Linked DNA regions of Homo sapiens: regions 2 and 3 are each linked to region 1. Evidence: fine-mapped expression QTL. A gene starts in region 1. Each other region holds a variant in brackets. All regions are shown on one strand. Distances are between the middles of the regions.

What was found. PIP is the estimated chance that this variant, and not a neighbour inherited with it, causes the effect.
Region 2: its variant is the best candidate, but not a certain one, in a credible set for the expression of NUDT2 in whole blood (INTERVAL, PIP 0.63).
Region 3: its variant is the best candidate, but not a certain one, in a credible set for the expression of NUDT2 in monocytes (Fairfax 2014, PIP 0.72).

The regions. Positions count from the first base shown.
Region 1 is chr9:34,328,298-34,331,058 of GRCh38, forward strand. NUDT2 (nudix hydrolase 2) reads left to right here and starts at 1,272. Exons shown (of 5, transcript NM_001161.5): 1 at 1,272-1,302. It overlaps KIF24 (kinesin family member 24), which reads right to left and starts at 971. Exons shown (of 13, transcript NM_194313.4): 1 at 809-971. RefSeq lists enhancers at 638-697, 798-897, 985-1,492, 1,028-1,217.
Region 2 is chr9:34,307,147-34,309,907 of GRCh38, forward strand. The region is part of intron 2 of KIF24 (kinesin family member 24); the gene reads right to left. Among named protein-coding and RNA genes, the nearest start is that of KIF24, 21 kb to the right of the region's middle. The variant G/C (reference allele first, on the strand shown) is at 1,567.
Region 3 is chr9:34,293,881-34,296,641 of GRCh38, forward strand. All of the region lies in intron 4 of KIF24 (kinesin family member 24), which reads right to left. Among named protein-coding and RNA genes, the nearest start is that of KIF24, 34 kb to the right of the region's middle. The variant TAGAC/T (reference allele first, on the strand shown) is at 1,314.

The DNA of each region.
Region 1 (2,761 bases):
TGACAATAGCTGCCGGTCACTAAGAAGCTAAAGGGAGATAAATTATCTTGGCATACAGCAACAGAATGGTTTATTTTAAGCAAAGACTAAAAGGAGTCTAATAAAATTATTGGGAGACCAAGGCTAAAAGCCACAGATGCAGGAAGAGTTGCAGCAACCAATCCAAAAAAGTTTAGCCTTTCACAAAGAGTAGAAAGGCCAGCTGTGGACTGTGTGTGGACTTTTAGGTCCTTTTGCATTGAAGATTAGGGTGGCCTCCCCCTAGCCTCGAAATAAAAAATCGTCTCTGAAGCAGAGAGACAACAAGGCAGGGCATGAAGAGGAATCCAATCTATTTCTTGTAAATTAAATTCAACTCAACAAATATTTCCTGAAAATCTACTATGTGCAAGACATTGTGAACGATGCTTGCCTTACCTCAAAGGCTTCAAAATTTTATGGGAAAAGGGAAGCGAACGGGCTTCCCGGAAGTAAACAACCCAAGGGCGAATAGAAATGCCCTAAAAGAGGTGCCGGTCAGGCTTATCGGTTCAAAAGCAAGAAGGCTTTGGGACTCAAGAGTTTAGTCTCCCAAAGTGAGAGAAGTGGCGTTCAAGATAATTGCTGAAGAAAAGGCAGAGATATGGGGATGAAAGATAGGAAAGTAGGTGAACTTTAGGAAGAGCCAAGAGGGGCCAACTCTCGGTTCCCTCACAACTGCCAGTTTCCTCCCGCGCTCAGCCGACGTCACGCGCACCCGTGTCCGCGGGCAGGCGCCACGGTTCCGGACCAGACCTACCCCTCCTCTATTCTCCCCGCCCTTTCTCACCTCGGTCCAAACTCCTCGGTCTGCCCTGTCTGAGAAGAGGAGAAGACAATGCCGTCGGGAGTGAGCCCCAAAGCCCGCAACCTAACAGTCCCGTCAACCCGGGAGCCACCGGCGGCGGCCAGGCCGCATCTCCATGGCAACGCCGCCAAGCGCCAGTTCGAACGCCCGCGCTGTGGCCCGCGCGTCGCCAGTCCCGCACCGCCCACCAATGGGCATCCAAGGAATCGGTTGACGTTCGTTGACTTCTCCTCTGGAAGACCAATCAGAGGTCTGAAGAAACCGTGGGCGTAACTCTCAATTTCCGACCTTCAGCCAATCGTTCCGCTTGAGGGAAGATCTCGCGACGTTTCAGTGTGAGACGCGCACCTTTGAGGCGGGTCGAAGATCCTTCTGCCGAATTCTATTGATGGGCCCAAGCGTAACCAGGCTCTTCTGATTGGCCGGTGTACTTCAGTTTCCGTCCAAGGTCCGCCTCCTACCTCCTTCTGCTTCGGGTGAGTACCCTTAAGGGCCCACTTGATTTTAGTTCTCAGTGGAGGAAATGAGCCTTGGAGCGATGGGAATCTGCCTCTGGCAAACCTCTGGTCGCTGCAGGGCCCGAGAGGGATGCGCCCTCCTCTAAGTTGGCAGTGAGGTGTGGGCAGGCCAGGTCCCATCCGCTCTCAGGACCTCAGTTTTCCTGTCTGCACCGGGAGAAGGGAGGTTCCCTGACTCTGAGCCTTGCTTGTCCCCGTCGGAGTGGGGATAGGGTGGGTCGTCCAAATCCCAGAGGCGGGAGAGGTCCAGGTTTAGGGCCCAGAGGCCCAGGCGCCGAACCTTCCCCTCCCTGGGCCTCAGTTTCACTTGTTGCTACCCATTAAACCCCGCCTGCTTTCCAAAAGAGATTTTATGTTTTCTAATTGCTTCAGTTATTGAATGGATAATATCGTGGCAGTTATAGCAGAAGTAAAGAAAGTCGAACAAGAGCCCCACCGCCTTAAACAAACAAACAAAAAAGGGACAGCGTAAACAATGCAGGCCGGGTGCGGTGGCTCACGCCTGTAATCCCAGCATTTTGGGAGGCCAAGGCGGGCGGATCACGAGGTCAGGAGATCGAGACCATCCTGGCTAACACGGTGAAACCCCGTCTCTACTAAACAAAATACAAAAGTTAGCCAGGCGTCGTGGCGGGCACGTATAGTCCCTGCTACTCGGGAGGCTGAGGCAGGAGAATGGCATGAACCCAGGAGGCGGAGCTTGCAGTGAGCGGAGGTCGCGCCACTGCACTCCAGCCTGGGCGACAGAGCGAGACTCCGTCTCAAAAACAAAACAAAACAAAAAAAAACTGAATGCAATCAAATTGTCAAATGTAAAACGCTATTATAGAGTTAAGGTTAAGATCATTGATGTTAGGAGTCAGGCAGACCTACATTTGAGTCACTTACCCAGACATCTCTGAGCTATAGTTCCCTTTCTACTCTTCTGAAAAATGGCAGTAATGCCTCAGCGGGTTGTTGTGAAGATTAAGTGAAATAATGAAGGTAAAGCACTTGACACAACGCCTGGCGAGTAGTAACTTCTTAAAAAATGGTAGCGGCCGGGCGCGGTGGCTCACGCCTGTAATCCTAGCCCTTTGGGAGGCCGAGGCGGGCGGATCACGAGGTCAGGAGATCGAGACCATCCTGGCTGACACGGTGAAACCCCGTCTCTACTAAAAACACAAAAAATTAGCCGGGCGTGGTGGCGGGCGCCTGTGGTCCCAGCTACTCGGGAGGCTGAGGCAGGAGAATGGCACGAACCCGGGAGGCGGAGTTTGCAGAGAGCAGAGATCGCACCACTGCACTCCAGCCTGGGCGACAGAGGGAGACTCCGTCTCAAAAAAAAAAAGGTAGCTATTATTCTTATAATAAGAACAGGCAAATACACTAGTCAGTGCGTTGGTGTACTTTTTGTAACTGAGTACCCAATTTTGCC
Region 2 (2,761 bases), 21 kb before region 1:
CAGCCTCAACCTCCAGGGTTCAAGAAATTCTACCTCAGCCTCCTAAGTAGCTAGGACTATAGCATACAACACCGCAGCTGGCTAATTTTTGTAATTTTTGTAGGGACAGGGTCCCACTATCTTGCCCAGGCTGGTCTTCAACTTATGGCCTCAAGCAATCCTCCCATTTTGGCCTGTCAAAGTGCTGGGATTACAAGCATCAGTCATCACGCTCAGCCTGGAGAATAATTTTTTTACTGGGATCTGAATTGGTTTAAAAAAAAAAAAACCAGCAAATAATTTTCTAATATAATGAATGCATAAAGCACTAATTTTATGGCATGTTTTAAAGCAAATTTTATTTTCTTAACCAACATTTAGGGACTTTAAAATGCATCATTTTTGCATGAAACTGCAGATGGAATAAATAAATGACAGAATAAATGAAATGTACCATTTTGAGGTACTGTGGGAAAATCGTGACAATCATTGAAACTGGATGACGGGCCAGGTGCGGTGGCTCACGCCTGTAATCCTAGCACTTCGAGAGGCTGAGGCGGGCAGATCACTTGAGGTCAGGAGTTCGAGACCAGCCTGGCCAACATGGTGAAACCCCATCTCTACTAAAAATATAAAACTTAGCTGGGCATGCTCACTTAAACCCAGGAGGTGGAGTTCACAGGTGAGATAGTGCCATTGCATTCCAGCCTGGGCAACAGAGCAAGACTCTGTCTGAAAAAAAAAAAAAAAAAAAGAAAAAAGAAAAAGAAATTGGATGATGGACATATTGGGATTCAGTGTTCTATTTTTTTCTTCTTTTGCATATGTTTGATTTTTCACAAGAAAAGGGAATTTTTTGTTTTGAGACAGGGTCTTGCTCTATCACCCAGACTGGAGTGCAGTGGTGCGAGCATAGCTCACTGAAGCCTCAACCTCCTGGGCTGAAGCCATCCTCCCACTTCAGCCAATAGTAGCTGGAACTACAGGTGCACACCATCATGTCTGGCTAATTTTTGTATTTTTGTAGAAACAGGGTCTCACCATGTTGCCCAGGCTGGCCTCGAACTCCTGGGCTCAAGCAATCTGCCTGCCTTGGCCTCCCAAAATGCCAGGATTGCAGGCATGAGCCACTGTGCTCATCAAAAATGAAAATTTTTAATGCTTTTTTTTTTTTTTGAGACAGAGTTTCATTGTGTCACCCAGGCTGGAGTGCAGTGGCACAATCTTGGCTCACTGCAACCTCTGCCTCCTGGGTTCAAGCGATTTTCCTACCTCAGCCTCTAGAATAGCTGGGACTGCAGGCACCTGCCATGACGCTCTGCTAATTTTTGTATTTTTAGTAGAGATGGGGTTTAGCCATGTTGGCCAGGCTGACCTTGAACTCCTGACCTCAGGTGATCCACCCGCCTTGGCCTCCCAAAGTGCTGGGATTAGAGGTGTGAGCCACTGTGCCTGGCCTAATGCATCATTTTAATAAGGGTTTTGTGTTAAAATCTTTAGTTGTTGGATATCAATAACCTAATCATATAAAGCTGATCAAAGAGGATAGAAAATGTTTGGTCCTTTTTAAAATTGTTCAGGGCTCTA[G/C]GATGACTCATATGAACAAAAGGCCCATAGTTTCAAGTTCAAGGAGCAAAAAGACATGCATGTTTTTTTAAAAAGCTCTAGTTTGGGCAGGGCAGAGTGGCTCTCACCTGTAATCCCAGTGCTTTGGGAAGCTGAGGTGGGAGGATCACTTGAGGCCAGGAGTTCAAGACCAGCCTGGGTAACATAGTGAGATCCCCAACTCTACAAAAAATTGAAAAATTAGCTGGGGACAGTGGTGCATACCTGTAGTCCTAGCTACTTGGGTGGCTGAGGCAGGAGGATCACTTGACCTCAGGAGTTTGAGGCCCCAGTGGACTATGACTGCACCACTGCACTCCAGCCTGGGTGACAGAGCAAGACCCTGTCTCTACAAATCAAACAAACAAACAAATAAACAAAAGAGTCAAATAAATGAAATGGTAATGGTTAAACTAAAATATCCATCCTATCCTTGATGGTGTTAAATAAAGTGGTATTTTTACTTATAAGTAATTCCAATTTAGATTTTTATGTACTGTTCAGTAAAAAAGTAATATTCAAGAAAATAGGCCAGGCGTGGTGGCTCACGCCTGTAATCCCAGCATTTTGGGAGGCTGAGGCGGGTGGATCACAAGGTCAGGAGATCAAGACCATCCTGGCTAACATGGTGAAACCCCACCTCTACTAAAAATACAAAAAATTAGCCAGGCATAGTGGCGGGCGCCTGTAGTCCCAGCTACTCGGAAGGCTGAGGCAGGAGAATGGCATGAACCCGGGAGGCGGAGCTTGCAGTGAGCAGAGATTGCACCACTGCACTCCAGCCTGGGCGACAGTGCGAGACTCCGTCTCAAAAAAAAAAAAAAAAAAAAGAAAATATTTACTCCTTCACCGCTGAGGTAACCAATGCAATAGCAACAATCTGCCTTCATAGTCAAGGAACAATCTATTCCTCTCAGAATTAAAAGAAGAAAACAGTATTACATGCTCTGTGATCTCCTAGACCAAACAAAATGTTTTCAGAAATATTATAATAAAAATTCACTTATGTATTTCAAATTATTAAAGATATTTTTACTGTTAAAACTGAGTCTTCTATTTTTATGGAGTAAAATAACTGATTATGAGATCTTCTGAAACCTTAGCCAATGTAAGACCAGATATAAATTCTTTATCTTAAGGTATGAATAACAGTATTTTTAAAAAGAAAATATGGCTC
Region 3 (2,761 bases), 34 kb before region 1:
CTGACGATAGCAGATATTGCAGAACTACAATTCTCATGTTACTGTTGGGAGTATAAAATGGTACACTTTGAAAAGTTGTTTGACATTTTCCCTTTTTTCTCTTCTTTGAGACAGGGTCTTGCTCTGTTGCCCAGGCTGGAGTGTAGTGATCACAGATTATTGCAGCCTTGATCTCTTGGGCTCAAGCAACAACCTTCCAAGTAGCTGGGACTACAGGCATATGCCACCAAACCCAGCTAATTAAAAAAATTTTTTTTAGAGATAGGGTCTCACTATATTGCCCAGGCTGGTCTTGAACTCCTGGCTCAAATGATTCTCCCATCTCGGCCTCCCACAGTGTGAAATTACAAGCGTGAACCACTGTGCCCGACTGACACTTTCTTATAAATATAAACCTATCCTATGAGCCAGCAATTCCATTTCTAGGTTGTTACCCAAAGTAAATGAAAACATGCTCATAAAAAAAATTATACAAGAATGTTCTGGCCATCATGGAGAAACCCCATCTCTACTAAAAAATAAAAAATTAGCCGGGTGTGGGATTACAATCCCAGCTACTTGGGAGGCTGAGGCAGGAGAATCACTTGAACCCGGGAAGCAGAGGTTGCGGTGAGCTGAGATCGCACCATTGCACTCCAGCCTGGGCAACAAGAGTGAAACTCCGTCTCAAAAAAAAAAGAATGTTCATACTTTATTCATAAAGTCCAAAGCCGGAAACAATGCAAATATCTGTCAACAGGAGAATAGACAAAACAAAGTGTGATAATTTCATAGAAGGGAATATTACTCAGCAATGAAAACCACAGATACGTGTAACAACATGTACTAATATAAAACACCATTATGCTAAGCAAACATTATGTTAAGCATATAAGTATAATGATTCTATCTCTATGATATTGTAGAACAGATAAAACTAATCTATACTGACAGAAAGTAAGTCAGTGGTTACCTAAGACCTGGGGGTGAGGGTGGAGGATTAACTAAATAGGGACACAAGAGAACTTTCTGGGGTGATGAAAATGTTCCATGTCTTGTTACAGATATTTGTTACTCACGTATATAAAACTCTCAAAACTCATCAAATGTGAATACTTAAGATCTGTGCATCTTATTGTATGTAAATTATCCCTCAATTTTTAAAAAGTTGTTTGAAAAAACAGTCAAAATTCTCTGGAATCAGCAACACTAGCAGGCTACTTGGCATTTTCTATCATACATGCCTACAATTTTAATAGATAGGTAGGTAGATAGGTAGGTAGGTAGATTAGATAGGTAGGTAGATAGCTAGGTAGGTGGATTGGATGGATGGA[TAGAC/T]AGACAGACAGACAGACAGACAGACAGACAGAGGCAGGGTCTTGCTCTGTTGCCCAGGCTGGAGTACAGTGCAAGACCACAGCTCCTACAGCCTTGACCTCCTGGGCTCAAGCAATCCTCCCACCTCAGCCTCCCAAGTAGCTGGGACCACAGGTGCACATCACCATGCCTGGCTAATTAAAAAAAAAAATTTTATAGACCAGGCATGGTGGCTCACACCTATAATCCTAGCACTTTGGGAGACTGAAGCAGGAGGATTGCTTGAGCCCAGAAATTCAAGACTAGCCTGGGTAACATGGCAAAACCCCATCTCTAAAAAAATACAGAAATATTAGCTGGGCGTGGTGGCAGGCACCTGCAGTCCCAGCTACTCAGGAGGCTGAGATGGGAGGATTGCTTGAACCTGAGAGGCAGAAGTTGCAGTGAGCCAAGATTGCACCACTGCACTTTGGCCTGGGTGACAGAGTGAGACCCTGTCTCAAAAATATAAAATAAAATAAAATAAATATTTTTTGGTGTGTGTGGAGATAGGGTCTCCTTATGTTGCCCAGACTGGTCTCAAACTCTTGGGCTCAAGCTATCCTCCTGTCTTGGCCTCCCAAAGTGCTTGGATTACAGGTGCAAGCCACCACATGTGGCCCATGCCTATATTTTAAATACTTATGCAACAGAGGCCCTTACTATCATTCCTGTCCCATTCAACGTTTATTAAGTGTGAATAATAACTTAAAAATACATCTGGCCGGGCGCGATGGCTCACACCTGTAATCCCAGCACTTTGGGAGGCCGAGGCGGGCGGATCACGAGGTCAGGAGATCGAGACCATCCTGACTAACACAGTGAAACCCCGTCTCTACTAAAAATACAAAAAATTAGCCAGGCATGGTGGTGGGCGCCTGTAGTCCCAGCTACTCAGGAGGCTGAGGCAGGAGAATGGCGTGAACCCGGGAGGCAGAGCTTGCAGTGCACCGAGGTGGCGCCACTGCACTCCAGCCTGGGCGACAGAGTGAGACTCTGTCTCAAAAAAAAAAAAAAAAACATCTATGAGGCCGGGCGTGGTGGCTCACGCCTGTAATCCCAGTACTTTGGGAGGCCGAGGCGGGCGGATCACGAGGTCAGGAGATGGAGACCATCCTGGCTAACACGGTGAAACCCCATCTCTACTAAAAATACAAAAAAATTAGCCGGGCGTGGTGGCGGGCGCCTGTAGTCCCAGCTACTTGGGAGGCTGAGGCAGGCTGAGGTAGGAGAATGGCGTGAATGTGGGAGGCAGAGCTTGCAGTGAGCTGAGATCACGCCACTGCACTCCAGCCTGGGCGACAGAGCAAGACTCCATCTCAAAAAAAAAAAAAATACATCTATGAAAAATTGATAAGTGATATTCACTTATCTATCTGATTCCAAAGAAAAAATTAACTAAACTATAGCCAGAATACATAATTCC